4 linked regions of the Homo sapiens genome follow. The protein of the gene in region 3 purifies or fractionates together with the protein of the main gene of each other region. This does not show direct contact. Each region holds a gene or a part of one and is shown on either strand. Other genes may lie near its edges.

Region 1 (5,336 bases), on a different chromosome or scaffold from region 3:
TTCCCTTCCTCACAATTCCCCTCCTCCCCACCCAGGGCACATGAAACTCACTTTCAGTGAGCACCAGCAGGGATTATCTCATGTATTCCTCACAAAACCTCTGCAAGATGGGGGTTATCACTCCTGTTTTACAGCTAAGGAACATGAAGCTCAGAGAAAGTAACCAGGCCAAGCGCATACTGTCAGTGCTTCCATGCTGTCTTCCTCGTGCCTCAGGGGACAACAGTCCTTCCACTGAGACAGCTACACTAACTGGAGAGTTTTGCCATCCTCTTCCCAGTTTTCTGCCTAGTAGTGGTTCCAGGGGGTCTCCAGGATTGCCCTGGGTCCTCTACAGCAATCAGGATTACTCCAGTAGGTCTAGAAAGTGTACACCTCCTTGGAAGTTCCTGCTCGAGGGGACTCCTGTGTTTTAGCTGGATTCTAGGAAATTCCTCTTTGTCCTCCATATGCTTCAGTCCTTTTATGTGGCTCCTTTGAACTAGGTCCAGTCTCCAGGAAACTGGAGATGCCCCTCCACAACTGTTTTCCACCCTGATTTGAATCCCCAGTGTCCTAGGAATCAATATGCGGTGAGTGGTTACAGTGGAGGAACGTTTATACCACAACAGCAATAAATTCTCTGAGGGTTAGTATAATATAAACAATTGACAGTGAAACATCTGTGCAATACTGGAGTACAGCAGAGCTTTAGCACATGCTTTAGCACTACAGAACTGGGATTTTATGCACGTCAAATCATGTTTGACACACCCCCAAACTGCACAGAGTAAGTCCTGAGGACACAGCCATCTAACCTTGCCATGTGATCCGCTCCCAATCTTTACCCCCTGCCAACATTACGTAAGTAGCCTATTTTTCCTCAGAACCCAATTCAATTTTCTTGAGCAAAATTTGAAAGAAAGTAATTTCATCCAACAAAAAGGATTCTGAACAAACACAGAAGAGATAGGCTGTAACTTACAGCAGTTTACTCAGGCCTCACCTAGATGTCCTGTCATAAACATTTGATACCATGATTAACACCAGGAGCTCAACTAGACTTACAAGAGGGAAATATTATTAGGGAAAACTAGGAATTCTTCATTCTTATTTTTCCACTAAAAAGGGTTCACACAATTGTGGAGAAAAGAGTGTCACAAAAAGTAAAGTTTACAAAGTCGTGGTTTATATGCAAAATAAAACAAACACATGTAAGTTTATTCTACCCTTCTGGGAGGAAGTGGAGACACAGGGTAGCAACAACTCAATTCTACAAATATTTATTTTGTCATTACTGAGTGCAAAGTATCAGGGAAGTGTAGCTGTGGAATACCAATGCTTAAGAGACCACAGAGTTCTTGAAACCCACGATTCTTCTTCAAATCCAGATGTGTGTGAGCCCCACCTCATCAACTCTGAAGGCTGAAGGATCAGCTGGAATTTCTGCTGCAGGGTGTCCCTGATAAGCTCAAAAGCATCAGAACGGAGGGAGCTTTCTCCCCTTCTCTCATCTCATTAAAATGAGCTTTCTTGTTGTGGGGGGTTGGGGAGGGACCTTTAAAACCAAACAATGGTGCCCTCTTATCATCTTTTCCTGTCCTCCTTTCTCCAAGTTTCCAGAGGGGAAAATAAAACCAAACAAACCCCTCAGCATTGTGCTCTCCTGACCTCTAAGCTCTTCTCATATAAAGTGTACTGTTAGCCTTCTGTATCCCAGCCTAATCACACTTCCCTTTCCCTTCCACACTTGTGGACTTCACAGATTTCTCTGGACGTTTCTCTGGAGATTTCTCAGTTCTTCCTCTTCCAAAGCTCTTTTTTCTTCTCCCAAGTTTCTCCACAGTCTTGCTGAATCCCTTTACTCAAGGCTTTTACACAGGGTTAAATTTGGGTGGTGGTTTTATTTTTTTTTTAACCACCATATATACATCTTGGTTGTACTTATTTATTACTGTGCAACCACCTCTGCTCCCTTTCTAGAATTTAGTGCAATAGAAAAGGCATTACCTTTAACCTAACATTTGGGACTTTGAACTAAACTTTTGCACATGTTTTAAGAGCCCATTATCTCTTAAGTTGGACTCTTCCTAAATCTCTGCCGCCAAACCTACTTTATTGAAATCCTTTGAAACCCAAGTCTTTCCACATTTTGGCTCTCTCTGAAGTTTCTTTCTTTCTTTCTCTTTCTTTCTTTCTTTCCTTTTCTTAACCCTATATTATAGTGTCTGGTAATAACAACATATATAGACACCACACTATGTGTCTGGTAATAATATAGAGACCACACTATGTGCACTATGTACAATTATAATCCTTATTTTTATACAGGATAGAACTGAGGCAAGAAAGAGTAAATAACTTGCTCAAGGTCACATAGAAGGTAATTGAACAGAGAATCTACCCCAAAGCTGTGAGCTTAATTACTCTCAAGCTCCGGGGTCAAAGAGATCTGGTGTCCATTCTTATCACGTCTCCCTTTTTGCGGGGATGGTGCCTGTTAATTTATTCAGCTTCTTCGACGCGGTTTCCCTTTCAATAAGATTGAGATAAAGCATTTTTCGAAAGATCTAGATTGAGATAAAGCATTCTTTGAAAGATCTAGCAGTAAATGAGAGCTGCGTGAGGGATCCGATTCAGTCCCTAGCTCTGGATAACTGTCAGTGCTTCTACGCACCCCACCTTAAGCCCCTCGCAGGCAGGACTGGGTCCTGCTCCTCTAAATACTCCCATCTCATAGTGGGGGCGCAATAACGTCCGTTTAAGACGAATCGTCCAAGGGACTTCTATGCATCCAGCTGGCACACTGGCCGGAGTCTCACTTTATCCCCACATCTCTCCGCGCCCTGGACCTAGGCTTGCCACACTCTGCCATCCGCTGCTTTTCCAGCCCGGCTCCTCTCTCAGTCCGGGACTACTATCCCGGGCGCGGGCTCGGGTCTTACCATGGCATCGTAGCGCAGGGCGTTCATGAAGTGCGCCACCTCGGCGCCCTTGTACACGGTGAACCAGATAGTGCCCTGGTACTGGTCGCCGGCGTCCAGCAGCAGCACGTTGGGTTCGGCGCGGCGGATCTGCTGAACCTTGGTGAAGAGCCGAGCCACGCCACCCATGCAGCGGCTGGCGTTGACGCACTTGCTGGAGTCCTCGCTGGTCTGCTCCAGCCGGCTGTGCACGTCGTTGGTGTGCAAAATCGTAAGCTCCCAGGCGCCAGCCGCAGGCCACAGCACCGCGCCCAGGGCGAGGAGTAGCGTCGCGGGCGCCCGCGCGGCTCGGGGACACATAGCTGTGGCGCGTGAACTGGGTGCGAAAGCGGGCGAGCCGGGCGAGTGCCGGCGAGTAGGGGCGAGCAGCTAGGGCCGGGGCTCGGTGCCCCGGCTGGAGGGGCGGGGCCCGGGTCAAGGCCGGGGCGGGTCCTTCTTCAGCCTGGAGGCCGGCTTGGCGGCCAGGCGCAAGTTCGCGACGTCACCCGATCCGACCCTGGTACCCGGAGCGGCCCTGGCGCGGCTGTCGGCTGGCACCAGCTCCCTGCAGGAAGAGTGGAGAGGTTGTTCCCGGCGGGGAGCGGGTACCGGCCGCATCCCGGCCGGACCAGGGAGCCTGGGCGCCGGCAGTTCGGCTGCTGGTGCGCCGCTCTTTCGGGGGCGCGAGGAAGGAATTGGAGGGGTCCGCCCCGCGCCTGGGTCCTCTCTGAGTCTCGCCTCATTCGAGGCACGGGTTTTTCTACAAAAGGAATGTATGGTTTGTGGTTGCGCTAGCTCATCACTTCAAAGAACCAAAGAAGGAAAAGAGAGGGGGCGGGAAGAAAGATGAGCGAGCTGAGGGGCAGAGAGGAGGAGTAAAGAGAGGCCGGGCAGAGGAGCTCCTTGCAGTTTCGGGCTGTGAGAGCCGAAGCTCACTGAGATGTGACGCTTCCTGTTGGGTTGAGAACGCACGAAGTCTACGATGCTTAGACAAAAAAATCTCAGAAACTAAGAAATCATTCGAATCCAGTTCCTTGTTTATTCACAATTAAAACCTTAGTGATAAAACAGAGGCGACGCGCGGACAGCTCCTGGAAGCAGAAACACGATTGGGGTAAAATCCGGCAGCTATCAGGACGGGAAGGGATGCTGCCCTTCTTTGCTTTTCTGGTCTTATTTTATTTTATTTTATTTTTATTTTGTCGCGTGTGCTTTCGGTGTCGCAGTGAAGTCATAGCCAAATACAATGTTAGGAAGATTTTCCTCTATGTTTTCTCCTAAGAGTTTTATAATTTAAACTCTTAGACCTTTAATCCATTTTGAGTTAATTTTCATATGTGGTATGAGTCCACATTTACTCTTTTTCATGTGGATATCCAGTTTTCTTAGTACCATTTGTTGAAAAGACATTCTGTGCCCGTTTTTAAGACATTGACCTGAGGTTCGGAGATTGTAAATCATTTGCCAAGAAAGGCCATGCAGTTTGGGAGCAGCAGTGCCTGGGGCTACAGAAGACCCTTGCTTCTGGGACACCCTCTAATGTCATGCTTTGCAAGGTTTTGCTCTGTCCCTCTTTGAGCACCTGCTAGAAGCAGGTAAAAGAACTGGTAGTTTTGCTGTTTTAACTTAAAAAAAGAATGATTTTAGACTTACAGAAAAGTTGCAAAGGTAATAAAGGGAGTTCCCACATACCCATCACCCATATTGCCTTATGTTAACAGCTTATATAACCAATGAAACTAAAAACTTAACAGTGATACGAAACTATTAACTGTGTTACTGATTTTATTTTAATTTCACCAACTGTTCCACTAATGTCCGTTTTCTATTCCAGGACCCAATTCAGGATACCATATTGCAGTTAGTTTTCCTGTGTTCTTAGCCTCCTCTAATCTGTGACAGTTTCTCAGTCAGTTGTCTTCAAAAACCTTGACACTTTTGAACAGTACTGGTTTCTGTATACTATCCCTCAGTTTGGGTTTGTCTGATGTTTTCTCATGATTGGACTGAAGCTGTGGATGTTTAGGAAGAATGCTACAGAGATTATGTGCCTTTCTCATTGCCTGGTATCTGTGGGTACACGGTATCAACATGACCTATCACTGATCACTGGGGAACTGATCATTTGTTGTTTCTTGTCTTTTAAACCTAAGCCACTGCAATAGTTTCTGAAATTCCTGTTCTGGGGATGCTACCAGATTTCTGCTTCAATATCATTTCCATGCCATTTGTTTTCATATACATCTAAAATGGCCTTTGATTGTTTATTGCACCAAGTTCAAGCTTCGCAAACTGGCATTTTGAAGTCTCATTTTATCCAGCCAACTTTACCTTCCACTGTTCCTCACACATTCCCTTTGTCCTCATTTCTTCTCTCCAAACCACCATTTCCAG
Region 2 (4,692 bases), on a different chromosome or scaffold from region 3:
AGTTTGGTTAACTTTTTATATGACTTTTTGTACTAAAGTATTGTAGACTATATTGATCTATCCAGGAATTTTATTTTAAATGAGACGAAATTAAAGAGTAAGGAATCTTAAATTGTTATGGTCACTCCATGGATTTGTACTATAAGGATCTTAGAGATAGGGAAAGAAGAAAGTTCTGAATTCAAAATTTATTCAGTCTTCTAATTATTCATAACTTAAAATTTTGCTGATTATGATTATATTGGTCTATTACAACTGTGTAATGTGCTGTTAATTCTAAGAATGTAAAAATAAATTTTAATTTTATCTTCTAGCTTGCAAATGTCCTTGAGATTGACTTATCCCTGGTTAAGGTATGTTATTTTTATACTCATTTACTGGTGATGTGATAACTGAGTGGATTTTACTAGTAGATTTTTATCTTGATAAGCTACTGAGAAACGAAGACATTGAGATTGTTGTTAGCTGTCTGAGAGAACGTGCACAGTAAAGGGGCACTTGCAAAGACAGGAAAGAGCAGGAAAAGGGGCCCTAAATTGGGATTCAAACACATGGACTGAAAAGAGAGCACTCATGCAAGAAGCAGCCCAAGCAGTATCTTGTAGTGAGGTCCGTTAAAGCAACAACTCCTGCTTCATTAGGGGTAGATGTAGGGAGGGCAAGGCCAGAGAGTTGGAAACATTCCCTCCTATACATTTATGAAGACTTCAAGGGAGGAGCAGGTCTACTGAAAATAGTTTCTGGTTACGGGATGAAAATGTTTGAGAATCACTATTAGTCTATTACACTATTTTTTCTCTACAAATATTGTGATGTCTAGTTTATTTTAAATGGTAATTAGTTTCCTTTATATTCCTTTCAGAATGCTGTTTCAATGTATTGCCGATTGGGCTTTGCCCATAAGAAGGGACAAGTAATTAATTTGGATCAACTTCATTCATCATGGAAGAATGTTCCATCCGTAAACAGATTAAAGTAACTTAAATTTATTCAGTATGAGCTATTAGAGTTTCCTTTTGAAAAGACATTTAATTTTACATACATAAATTTATTTATTTATTTATTTATTGAGACAAAGTCTCTCTCTGTCATCCAGGCTGGAGTGCGGTGGCGCGATCTCGGCTCACTGCAACCTCCACCTCCCCGTTTCAAGCGATTTTCATGCCTCAGCCTCCTGAGTAGTGGGGACTATAGGTGTGCACCACCATGCCCAGCTAATTTTTTGTGTTTCTGTTAGAGGTGGGGTTTCACCATGTTAGCCAGGCTGGTGTCGAACTCCTGGCCCCAACTGATCCACCCACCTTGGCCTTCCAAAGTGTTGGGATTGCAGGTGTGAGCCACTGCACCTGGCCCAGAAATTTTATTTATTCAACCTGTCAGTTGAGGTGAGCCCTTTATATTAGTGATTTTTAATCTTGTGTGTGTGTTACAGATCTTTTTTGGAATATAATGAAAACTAAGAAGGCTTTTCCCAGAAAAAAAGCAAATAAATATTTTACATAAAATCTTGAAGGGTTCTTGAATTTTCTGAAGCCTATCCGTGGATCTTAGTTAAGAACCCTTGTTGTATGTAGGCAGAGCATTTTTGGGCTGCGACTTAATTTTGGGCTTGAATATAAGACTGAATTTTGATGGATTGTTCATAATTTAAGTCTTAACTTCAGTAGATATTTTAATGTAAGGTCATTTATATGATTTTTAAAAAGCAAATGCATTCTTCATTAATAGGAGTACCTTAGATCCACAGAAGATGCTCTTGTCATGGGATGGAGGGGAAAGTAGGAGTCCTGTACAAGAAGCTTCATCGGCAACTGACACTGATACAAATAGTCAAGAAGATCCAGGTTAGCAGTAACTCAGTTTAACATAGAGTCTGTCTGTAGGTACGGCACATGTCCAAACATACACTCTTACAGTTACCTTCTAATTTTAGTTTAGATTTTATTCAATACGCAGTCTTTGAGTGTTTTACTATATTTTGGGCACTGTGCTAAGTCCTAGGTATATAAAACTGACAAGAATATGGTACCTTTCTTCTAAGAATTAAGTCTAAGGAGAGAGAAGGGAATGTGACCAAACAAATTACAACAACACGGGCACCAATTATAATGCTTGTAGGGTGCAAAGAGGAAGAGACCCTTAATTGGCTAGAGAGGTTTGGGAAGCCTTCACAGAGAAGATGTTATTTGAGCTAAGAATGAAGAAGAGCCTGCCAGCTGGTCAGGGAAGGAAAGCCATTTCAGCCCGAGAGAATAGTGAGGCTAAGCCCAAAGGGAAACACAGCATAGTGGACAAGGCCTAGGGTTAAATGCTTTTTAATATTCTTTGCGCTTCAAAATAGGTATGGCTGGAACTTCTTATGGCTATAATAGTGCCTTTTTAAAATTATGTACTTTCTGGTTATCAAATAAAGCTGAAATGAAATACTTTCACTCCAAATGGTAAGCAAAGAATAATTTCCATTTACTTGATTTTAAATTATGGTGTTTTTCAGCTGACACAGCCAGTGTAAGCAGCCTGAGTCTGTCTACAGGACACACGAAGCGCATCGCATTCCTGTTTGACTCCACTCTTACTGCCTTCTTAATGATGGGAAATCTTTCACCAGTAAGCCCAATTCTTGTTTAAATATGAAGGTGTTTAAAATAAATACTAGATATAAAATAATTTAATGCTTTTATATCTTTTTTAAAGTACTACATTTATTCCCGAAGCACAACTGACTTAGAGGAGTATAATAACTTTCAGGGAAGGTCCTTTTGTAATTGGAAGAATTAGCCCCTCACCCCCCAATCCTTAAGTTTAAATATATTTGAAAGGATAATATAAATATTTGATAGTATGCTTAGCATAAAAAGGGAGAAGTAGAACTTTAATATTTTGTTTCTTTTTTTCAGAACTTGAAAAGTCATGCAGTCACAATGTTTGAAGTAGGCAAACTCTCAGATGAGTCTCTGGACAGCTTTCTTATAGAACTAGAAAAGGTAAATGTAGATTGCATGTAAGGGGATGTTAGGGCATTTGGAATCTGTCCTTGCTTGACAGAATGCCAATTATACAGTCTGTTGATTTGGATGGGCTTTCAGTGTATTCTTGCTCGTTCCTACCTCATTCCCCAAATTAGTACTCTTACAGTCATTTAGACTTAAACATATTGAGTGGGTGAATTGATTTTGTGATTTTTAAAGTGATATGTCTACCTCATCTAATTCTTAACATAATTTGAGATAATGAAGAAATGGGGTATAGAAATTTTAGTCTGTAATGTTTTAAGTTGAATTTTTGCTAAAATAGCCTTTCAATTTTTTTTCTGGTATGACTCTCTAAGATCACCTCTTAAGCAGTTTGATTTGAAGTTTTTGTTCCATTTACCTTGAATCTGGAACAATATCCCTGGGTATCATATTTATGTCCGCTCTCACTATCCCTTTTAGCATCTTGAAGACTTCAGCCATATTTGCTCTTAACCACCTTTTTCCCCGTGAGTACAGCCCTAGTTTTCCTTAGCTCTAAATAAATCTGATTGCCCTTTATTGGTGTTTTTCATTCTTCGGATATTTTATTCTGGCCTCTTTGTATTCAAATAGTTTGTGTGCCTAATCTGTTCCTTGACTAATACTTTTCGTGCCTTTTGTGCTTTATGATGAACTTTGTATTTTCAATGCACTGTTTAGAGAATTTGTGGTGATTCTGCAACTCCTTTATATCTTAAAAAAAAAAGACTGTAACATTTTTCACTGCTCCTACTCCATAGGATTTTTACTTTTATTAGTGCAGAAATATGTGTGAGATAATCCTTTGCTATTAATTGGTCTCTTTTACTTTTACCTTTATACTGCCATTTATTTCTTCATGCTTCTTTATTTGTTAACCCCATTTCTTATTGTATATTATCTTCTACTAATAAATTTCTTACTATGTTACTGCACATTTCAAGTTCTGGTTTTCTGATTTTTATCTTTTTTTCACCTCAGCTAGTCTTTTATCAAATGTAGCAAATTGCAAGTTGACTTCTGCTCTTTTACTCATAAATCTATGTTCTTTTTCATCACAAAGTCATTCTTGGGAAAGCCTTTCAGTCTGAGGCTTAGTTTTTAAAGTGGATTCTTAGCTATTTTTTAAGTAGTTTGATCTTAAGATTGATTTCTTAAATGTATGCAAATCTGATTTAGTTATTTTCCCGTTGGTAGACCTATCATTCCATTTTCTGTGTTGTTTCTGGGATATATGTCTCTACTTATTAAAAGGTGACTTATTCAGACTTATTCAGAAGAGCATACATTAAACTATAAGGCCAGTGAAGGCAGGGGTTTTGTCCATTACTCTATCCTTATCTCCTAGGGAGGTCATAGTCCATAGGAGGCACTAAGTAAATCTTTGTTGAGTGAATTTAAGCTGTGTGTTCAGCAATGGTGAACAGCTATGTTGAATCACAGACTCCAGTGTCTCTTGTAACTGGTAATACAGAATTGTGAACAAAGTTATGAGAATTATAGGTAAAACTGGTGACCTTGGAGTACTTTCCTAGATGGAGCAGAATACGGGTTTTAGAGTTGTTTAAGCACTCTATTTGAATCATTTGGAACATGTAACATATAATGCTATAACTTAGCATTATTCAATTGCTAAAATTGTTAGTCTTAGTTGAAGTAATTTCTATCTCCATAGATGTAGTAAAATTGGGAACTCAAC
Region 3 (4,692 bases):
AACAGAAAGTGGATTCGTGCTTGCCAGGAGCTGGGGAGAGGGGGAAGTGGGAAGTGACTGCTGATGGGGACAGGGCTTCTTTCTGGGGTGATAAAAATGTTCTTATGACCAGGAACAGTGCCTCACACCTGTAATCCCAGCACTTTGGGAGTCAGAGGCAGGCAGATCACTTGAGCCCAATACTTTGAGACCAGCCTGGGCAACATGGCAAAAACTCGTCTCTATAAAAAATACAAAAAATTTAGCCCAGCATGGTGATACATGCCTATAGTCCCAGCTACTTGGGAGGCTGAGGCAGGAGGATCATCGGAGTCTGGAGGTCAATGGTGCAGTGAGCTGTGATTGTGCCATTGCACTCCAGCCTGGGTGTTAGAGTGAGACCCTGTCTCCAAAAAATCAAATAAACAAAAAGCAAAAAAACCCACCCAAAAAACCAAAATAAATAAATAAATAAATAAACAAAACAGAAAATGTTCTTGGTTGGCTGGGTGCCCACACCTGTCATCCTGGCACTTTGCAAGGCTGAGGTGGGCAGATCGCTTGAGCCCAGGAATTCCAGACCAGCCTGGGCAACATAGCCAGACCCTGTCTCTACAAAAAATAAAAATAAAAACAAGCAGGACATGATGGTGTGCACCTGTGGTCCCAGCAACTAGGGGGGCTGAGGTAGGAAGATTCCTTGAGCCCAGGAGGTTGAGGCAGCAGTGAGCTATGATCGTGCCACTGGACTCCAGCCTGGGCAACAGAGCAAGACCCTGCTCCAAAAAAAAAAAAAAATAGAAAATGTTTTTGGGGCCAGGCACAGTGGCTCACACCTGTAATCCCAGCATTTTGGGAGGCTGAGGTGGGCGGATCACCTGAGGTCAGGAGTTCAAGATCAGCCTGGCCAACATGGTGAAACCCCATCTGTACTAAAAATACAAAATTAGAAAAAAAAAAGAGGAAACGTTCTTGACTTAGATAGTGGTGATGGTTGCACAAATATACTAAATGCCACTTTAATTTATTTATTTGAGTTGGAGTTTCATTTTTGTTGCCCAGGCTGGAATACAGTGGTGCGATCTCAGCTCACTGCAACCTCCACCTCCTGGGTTCAAGCGATTCTCCTGTCTCAGCCTCCCGAGTAGCTGGGATTACAGGCACCTGCCACCACGCTTGGCTAAGTTTTGTATTTTTAGTAGAGACGGGGGTTTCCCCATGTTGATCAAGCTGGTCTTGAACTCCTGACCTCAGGTGATCCACCTGCCTCAGCCTCCCAAAGTGCTGGGATTACAGGTGTGAGCCACTGTGCCTGCCTGGCCTAAATGCCACTTTTAAATGGCTAATTTATCTCAATAAAAAATAGAACCAAACCAAATTCTGGGCCTCCCTCAAGCTGGGAGGATTGCTTGAGCCTGAGAGGTTGAAGCTGCAGTAAGCTGAGATTGCACCCCTGCATTCCAGCCTGGACCACAGAGCGAGGCTCTGTCTCAGAAAAACAAAACAAAAAAAGTACTAGCTTCCTCTGGCTGCACCATATCTCCCACCCATCTCTCCTCCCATTAAATGCACCCTAACCTCAGTGCAGTTGGACTGGGACTAACCCGATTGTGGCCTCAGGGCCTTTGCACCTACCGTTCCCTCCCCCAGGAATGCATTTTACTAATCAGGCTTCTTACACAGAGTGCAGGGCAAGTAAGTTTCCCTTCAAGATCACACCATCCAGGGCTCGGGTACCCCCCTACCCTCAAGTCTGCTCACCTGGGGGCCCTGCTGGAGTCGTTAGCAGGGAGGAGAGCCGGGTCCAGGAGGCCAGAGGCGTTGACTGAGAGAGCCACGCAGCGGGCAGCCGACGATGGCAGGACCCTCATGGTCTGCTCGCTGGGTGGGTACAGCGTGGCGCCCAAGGCCACCCACAGCGACAGCGCCAAGCCCGCGCCTAGTCCCGCGAGGACGCCCTGGGGGCAGAGCCGGCGTCAGGGAAGGGGAGGGGCCTGTCCGGCCCCGCCCCTCCCCGCCCCTTGCCCCGCCCCCACTCACCGGTGTGTTGCAGGCCGGCAGGAACATTCCCAAGATGAAGGCTCCCAGCAGGGGGCCGCTGATGACTCCCATGACGGTGAAGGAGCCCTGGGAGAGTAGGTGGAAGTGGGGCTGAGGGCGGAGCCCTCCCACCGCTCTGGGCCTCAGTTTACCCGCTGGGAAAGCGAGACCTCAGGAACTCCAATGTGGGTCTCAAGGACTCCTCTGTGTCTCAGTTTCCCTAAAGGGGAGAGGACCCCCCCCCCTTGTTCCTGCCTATCTCCCTTGGGTTGGAGGCAAAGACACTGATTATCTCTTGGGGGTGGCAGTCCCACCCTCAAGCCAGGGAGACCCTTTCTTCTTCTTTTTTTTTTTTAGACAGAGTCTCACTTTGCTGTCCAGGTTGGAGTGCAGTGGCGCGATCTTGGCTCACTGCAACCTCCATAGGGAGGCCCTTTCTGTCGCCACCTCCCCCTTCCCAATTCCCCCACCCCAAGCCAGCCAGCTGCAAAAAAGTCCCCTGATGGCCTCTGGCATCAAATAGAACTTAGTTCTTAATCTCAGCGACTTGGAAGGCTGAGGCGGGTGGTTGCTTGAGGCCAGGAGTTCAAGACAAGCCTAGGCACGAAGCGAGACCCTGTCTCTAAAAACAAGTTTTAAAATTAGCCAGGCCAGGCGTGGTGGCTCACACCTGTAATCCCAACACTTTGGGAGGCAGAGGCGGGTGGATCACTTGAGGTCAGGAGTTCGAGACCAGACTGGCCAACATGGTGAAGTCCCATCTCTAATAAAAATACAAAAATATAAGCTGGGCGCGGTGGCTCACGCCTGTAATCCCAGCACTTTGGGAGGCCGAGGAGGGCGGATCACGAGGTCAGGAGATCGAGACCATCCTGGCTAACACGGTGAAACCCCATCTCTACTAAAAATACAAAAAATTAGTCAGGCGTGGTGGCGGGCGCTTGTAGTCCCAGCTACTCGGGAGGCTGAGGCAGGAGAATGGCGTGAACCCAGGAGGCTGAGCTTGCAGTGAGCCAAGATGGTGCCACTGCACTCCAGCCTGGGCAACAGAGCGAGACTCCGTCTCAAGAAAAAAAAATACAAAAATATTAGACGGGCATGGTGGCATGCACCTGTAATCCCAGCTACTCTGGAGGCTGAGGCAGAATTCCTTGAACCCAGGGGGTGGAGGTTGCAGCGAGCTGAGATCATGCCACTGCACTCCAGCCTGGGCAACAGAGTGACACTCCACCTCAAAAAAAAAAAAAAAAGAAAAAAGAAAAAAATTAGCCAGGCATGGTGGCACACACCTGTAACTCCAGCTACTTGGGAGATTGAGGTGGAAGGATGGCTTGAACCCAGGAGCTGGAGGTTGCAGTGAGCTATGATCGGGCCTCTGCTCACCAACCTGGGACAACACAGTGAGACCCCATCTCAAAAAAAAAAAAAACATAGAAGTGAGTTCTGCCACTGACACATGTGACCTCTCTGAGCCTCAGTTTAATGGGAAAGAGGGAAAGGTGCCCCCACCTCTCAGGAGACCAGGGCAGGGGGCAGGTGGGGTCTCACCTGAAGGACACCTCCTCCGAGCAGTGAGGACAGGGCTGCCACGGTGAGACAGGCCGATCCGTAGATGAGTGCTGTAGTGGATGAGGATGGCACGGTCAACGGGGAGGGACTGCCCTGGCCTCCCACCCAGGTCTCCCTGAAACTCACAGAGCCCCTTGGAGATAATCACGAGTTTCCTGGGTGCCAGGCTCCGCAGCCGAGGTTTGATGAGGTCTTCTACAGTGACTGCAGCCATAGCATTGATGCTGGTGGATGCTGTGCTGTGTGAGGAAGGCAGCGGGGGGTCCTCAGGCCATATGGAGAGACCGTCCACACCATCTGGCCTGCCAGACCTCACCCAGCCTGAGGGCAACGGTGGGGGTAACCCAGTCCTGCAAAGGTGAAGGAGATATTTGCCCCTCCCCTCCCCGAAGACCTGAGACATCCCTACAGGAGCAAGGACACCTGTGACCAAGGGCAGGTGGGACAGACAGGTGGGTTCTGGTTCCAGAGGGACTGCAGTCACATGTGGGAGATTTGCAAAAGGGACAGTGAGGGCATGTGACCAGAAGTCCCGGAAGAGTGGAAACCACCTGAGTGTGTGGCCTTGGAAGGCAGAAGCAGGGGACTGCTTGGTCATGGCTGTGCCCCAGGGTTTAGAACAACAGTACCTGGGCTGAGCACGTTGGCTCATGCCTGCAATCTCAGCACTTTGCGAGGCCAAAGCATGCAGATCACCTGAGGTCAGGAGTTCAAGACCAGCCTGGCCAACATGGCGAAACCCCGTCTCTACTAAAAATACAAAAATTAGCCGGCTGTGGTGGCGTGGACCTGTAATCCCAGCTACTTGGGAGGCTGAGGCAGGAGAATTGCTTGAACCCAGGAGGTGGAGGTTGCAGTGAGCCGAGATGGCACCACTGCACTCCAGCCTGGGTGACAGAGCAAGACTCCATCCGGAAAAAAAACAAAAAAAAACAGTACCTGCCACATAGTAGATGTTCAACAAATATTTGTCTGGGGAGGAAGGAAGGAAAGAAGGAAGAAGAAGAGAGGAGAGTCAGGCGTGGCCCTGACAGGTGATAAGAAGGTAAACCCTTGCAGTTGGGGTCCCTGTGCCCAGGGCATGCTCTCTGCCAGCGCCTACCT
Region 4 (4,692 bases), on a different chromosome or scaffold from region 3:
TCTCAGCTACTTGAGAGGCTGAGGCACAGGAACCTGGGAGGTGGAAGTTGCAATGAGCTAAGATTGCGCACTGGACTCTAGCCTGGATGTCAGAGCAAAACGTTGTGTCCAAAAAAATTTAAAAAAGCCTGCAGCTTCAACCATCTTCAGGTCTTGGTATTAACAGACTTTTAATTTTTTATCAATTAAATGAGTATAAAATTATAGCTCTTTGTGGTCTTGATTTCATTTATTCTCTAATAATGCTGACCGTCCCATTATGTGCTTATTGGCTATGTGTTTTCTCTTCTCTGAAATGTCTGCACCCTTGCCCCCCTACACACAATGAATTGTTTGTACTTTCTTGTTGATTTGTAGGAGTTCATTATGTATTCTTGATGCTTATTTGTGTTGATTTTGTGTAATGAAAGCATCTTCTCCCACTTTGTAACTTCTATTTTTACTGCATAGTCTCTTAATAAACATTTTAAATTTTACTACAGTTAAACTGACCAATTTTTTAAATCTTTTTTTTCTTTTTTCTTAAGAAAATATTTCCTACTCTTAGGCCCAGAAGATATTCACATATATTTTCTACTAAGAATTTCAAGGTTTTTGACATTTAAGATCTAAATCCAATTGGTAGCCATTTTCTCTCTCTCAACTTACTGAAAAGTACCATATTTCCTATTGTCTGACATGCTATGTTAGTCATATACCAATGTTCTGGATATACCATTTGTCATATACCAAAGTTCTAAGCTCTCAATCTTGTCTTATTAGTTTGCCTGACTCTGTACCAATATAACACTATCTTAATAAATAAATCTTCATTAAAAATACTTAATCTGATAAAAAAAGTTCCTCCTCCCTGCTATTTCTCAGAAACATTTTAGCCATCATTTGCCCTTTATTTTTCTGTTTGGAATAATATTTTCAAATTCTATAAAAAATGTTTTGGTGTTTTGATTAGTATTGAATTTGTAGATCAATTTGTGAGAGAATTGACATCTTCATAATATTTTCTATCTATGAACATGGTATGTTTATCAACCTTTTTAGGATTGTTGACATTCTTTGATATAATTTTATTACTTTGCCCATAGAAATCTTACGTATTTTCTGTTTTTGTTTATAGATATTTCATATATTTAAATTTCATTTATTTCTACTTTTATTTGTACTTGTCCCTGAATTTGAAGTTTTTCTCCTATATTTCTATATTTACATTTTAAGACACTAACATAAGAATACATAGTTGAATACTTATTTTATCCCCAAATAAGTTAAAGCAGGCTCCTGTCCTTTTGACTCGATCATTTTTTAAGAATTAAATTATATTAGAGAATTGAATTAGAGAAGTGATTGGTAGCATTTTGATTAGATAAGAACAAAAATCTTTGACTATTTTTCTTCTACAAATAATACTTTCAGTATTGTATGGGAATAGAGACGAAGCAGGAATAAATAAATGCTGTTTAATGGTTTATATATTTTTAAGCACATAAACATGTACATGGAGAAGGGAAGGTGTGTCAGCCTGCAGTTGGATTTCGTAAAAATAAACCTTGGCATAATTTTTGACCTCATTAAGCAATATGGATTCATAAATTCAGTATCAATTATGCAAGCAGTATATTTTTCTAATAAAATTATATTTATATAGAAGCATTATTTTCTATATGTGGGCCCACTAAAAATACCAAATGTTTTTAGTAAAGTTAAAATTATGAATCATAAAAATATATAAAACTGAATTATCTTCTTGCATGGTCAGGATGGAAGAATTTTCAATTTCTCATGATTTGTGAATATAAAATTGGCCTTCCTGGGATTTGGATCAGAATTGCTCATGCAATGAAGTCTAGACTCTTGTTACACAAATTTATCAGCCATTGCCAACTTTCCAGATTTCTTTTGTTGCAGAAAAGTCCTTGAGAATAGGCACCATAAGGAAATTCAGTTGAGAGAGTATAAGAAAATGTGTATACTGCGCCAAATATTTCTTATAATTGACTTGTGACATAACTATACACAAAGTGAGCTTTTTTTACCAACATTTTTCCTCCTGAGTTTCATGGACAAATCTAAATTCTAATGACTTCACAAATACAACTACAAATAGATTACATTTGAAGGAAAAAGGTATTTGTCTTTTACAATCAGTATGCAGGGTATGCTAGAAAAGGAAATGTAACCCAAATCATTTTAAAGAAGGAAAGTATATGCTTGCATATAAATGATCCAAAGTCTTGCTTTTAAAATTGGCCTGTGGCAATACATATATAAAGTCTTTTAACTGAGTATAAATTTAGCTGCCTTTCAGTTTTTTAGTTAGCTTGTTTCTTTCTTACTTTTACTTTTTGTGTTTTTTTGCTTTTCTGGAGAGAGAGTTAATGTTAGTCCAACTGGAAGAATTTTGAGTAAAATGGAACACAAAAAATTAATTGAAATGTTAGCAATTTCCATGACCATAAATAGACTGTCAGTTCATAAAATTTTATCATTAAGCCATGAGAAAAACATTCTCACTTGAAAAGATGAAATTCATTGAAGATAGAATAATCTACATTTACATATGTTTTTACTTTGGTTATATAAGTTTTAATATATTTTCTTAAATATTAAGAAATAGAGTGTGTTTCTGTTTAGAAATATGGCATTGTTTGAATTACTTTTAAATTTTTCTACAACCAATACTTACTATTGCATCATTCCAAAAAGATCATTTTTATTTCAAAACATCCCAAGTAATATAGGAAAATAAGAAAGGCTATATAATGTTTATTTGGCTTGTTACTGATTGAATTTCCCCCTGTGTAAAAATACTTAGAAGATGCAGTCCCAGAAAAACATATAACATTTTCTTTTAAATTTAACAGTAAAGAAGAATCATCAGTAACATCAGAAGAAAATAACTTTGAGAATCCAAAGAATACAGGTAATATTCTTCATTAATTTTAAAACCAAATTTGTCTCTTTTGTGAAAGTCTACAATTAAAACAATCTTACATAGGCACAATTATATTAACTTTTCAGATACCTATATCCCAACAATCATTTGTTCTCATGAGGACAAGGAAGATTTGGAAGCCAGTAATCGAAATGTAAAAGATGTAAACAGGGAACATGATGAACATAATGAAAAAGAATTAGAGTTGATGGTAAGTGTTCTGGTTGCCACGGTATTAGAGAAGATGAATCCATTTCTGCTTCAAAGATGCTGCAATGCCTGCCTTTCAATAGCTTCAACTAATATAATTTGCAAATGTGAAAGCACAGCCTATTCTGTCCTTGCGTCTCTAGCTTGATCAACAAGGCACTTTGATTTCTGTATGTTGCTTCTGGTCTCTGCAGTGGTAAATTAATGACATTCATTTCTTATCTCTTTACCAGTGGCTCTGAGTAATAGTTTGCAGGAATTACAGGAGAGGTAGCACTATCCTGATGTGCATTTCTAATCTTTGTGACAAGTGTATACTTAGCATAAACTCGTCTATAAAATGAGAGGGCTGGACTAGAGGATTGTTAGTGTCCTGTCCTACTCTAGAAGTCTATGATTCTCACATGTAACAGCATTTTTTAAAAAATTCCATCCTTGTGAGAATCTCCAAGTTCTATATCATTGTAGAGTATTAAATTACCAAGTAAAAAGAAAATAGCCTGTGCCATAATTTTAAAACAGGAAACAAATTCAGTACTATACAACTTAGTATTAAATTTGTTATAAATTTCATACTTGGTGAGCATTCAATCTATTTGGAATTTTTTGGGGGGATGGTTTATACAGCACTTTTATCACAAAGGAAGAAATAGGAGTAAATGAGTCACATAATGCAATTTATCCTTTACTGTATTTGGATGGAGCTCATATCATTGGAATACATGGATTCATAATCATCTAAGATTAAAATGACATTTGTCTCTTCAAGTGTCAGTGCTGAAACAGGAAAGAAATAGAGCTCATCTATTTCCCCACATATTCCACCTTTTCTATAGTGATCGCGGAGCTGCATCACTAAAGTATGCAATTTACTTTGCTCCAACTTTAAGAAACTACAAAGTTGTCACCCATTGTGAGAATTCTCACCAGCTGAAAGTTAACATGGCCATTTTTTTCAAACCACAGAATATAATGAAAGGGCCCTGAAAAATCACATACTTCACCAATACATCTCATTACGATGAGCAGGCTCAAATATAAAAGTTTGTTTAGAAGTTACTGAGATTGTACATCCAATAAATGAACAGGGAGCTGTAATTTAGATGCTAATTTGCTCCATGCTGACGTTAATGCATAAAACAATGAAGCTCTATAATAGATGGAAATACAACCAAATCTGTGGAACCCACAGGCATTGGCTTACAAGACAGCTGTGCAGTTGACAAGTAACATGAGCCTTATGTGAGAAGAAGGGGAAAACGTAAGATTTGCATATAATTATTGAGATCATGCAAATGTCAGTTATGAGGAGAAAAAAAAAAAAACACAGGCATCTCACTGTTAAATCCTGACAGTTGGCATCACTGAAGAGCTCAAATACATTTGAGTACCAGTTGGCAGAGGGTCATTAAAACAGAATTTGCAGAGACATTAACTCCCTCACTTTTCTTTGAGTGACGTTTTGCTATTAATAGTTTGCAGAGGCTTTGCAGAAAACATATTAATAAGAGAAACTGTAATGGGGGCACCTACAGCAAGTGTAAATGCAG

Evidence for each region.
Region 1: the proteins of SLC5A5 (region 3) and NT5E purify together in Homo sapiens (affinity purification with mass spectrometry, with the first as the bait; one large-scale study listed by BioGRID). This does not show direct contact.
Region 2: the proteins of SLC5A5 (region 3) and FAM91A1 purify together in Homo sapiens (affinity purification with mass spectrometry; one large-scale study listed by BioGRID and IntAct). This does not show direct contact.
Region 4: the proteins of SLC5A5 (region 3) and PPP1R3A purify together in Homo sapiens (affinity purification with mass spectrometry, with the first as the bait; one large-scale study listed by BioGRID). This does not show direct contact.

The regions. Positions count from the first base shown.
Region 1 is NC_000006.12:85,448,067-85,453,402, reverse strand, and holds the start of NT5E (5'-nucleotidase isoform 1 preproprotein), read right to left. Parts: upstream 3,321-5,336; 5' UTR 3,264-3,320; coding exon 2,925-3,263; intron 1-2,924. UniProt on the Homo sapiens protein: Catalyzes the hydrolysis of nucleotide monophosphates, releasing inorganic phosphate and the corresponding nucleoside, with AMP being the preferred substrate. Shows a preference for ribonucleotide monophosphates over their equivalent deoxyribose forms.
Region 2 is NC_000008.11:123,784,767-123,789,458, forward strand, and holds part of FAM91A1 (protein FAM91A1), read left to right. Parts: intron 1-314; coding exon 315-353; intron 354-862; coding exon 863-975; intron 976-1,728; coding exon 1,729-1,844; intron 1,845-2,494; coding exon 2,495-2,607; intron 2,608-2,897; coding exon 2,898-2,984; intron 2,985-3,434; coding exon of another isoform or gene 3,435-3,467; exon of another isoform or gene 3,468-3,481; intron 3,482-4,692. UniProt on the Homo sapiens protein: As component of the WDR11 complex acts together with TBC1D23 to facilitate the golgin-mediated capture of vesicles generated using AP-1.
Region 3 is NC_000019.10:17,881,095-17,885,786, reverse strand, and holds part of SLC5A5 (sodium/iodide cotransporter), read right to left. Parts: intron 3,828-4,692; coding exon 3,715-3,827; intron 3,639-3,714; coding exon 3,568-3,638; intron 2,107-3,567; coding exon 2,020-2,106; intron 1,938-2,019; coding exon 1,741-1,937; intron 1-1,740. UniProt on the Homo sapiens protein: Sodium:iodide symporter that mediates the transport of iodide into the thyroid gland. Can also mediate the transport of chlorate, thiocynate, nitrate and selenocynate.
Region 4 is NC_000007.14:113,880,490-113,885,181, reverse strand, and holds part of PPP1R3A (protein phosphatase 1 regulatory subunit 3A), read left to right. Parts: intron 1-2,861; coding exon 2,862-2,920; intron 2,921-3,018; coding exon 3,019-3,143; intron 3,144-4,692. UniProt on the Homo sapiens protein: Seems to act as a glycogen-targeting subunit for PP1. PP1 is essential for cell division, and participates in the regulation of glycogen metabolism, muscle contractility and protein synthesis.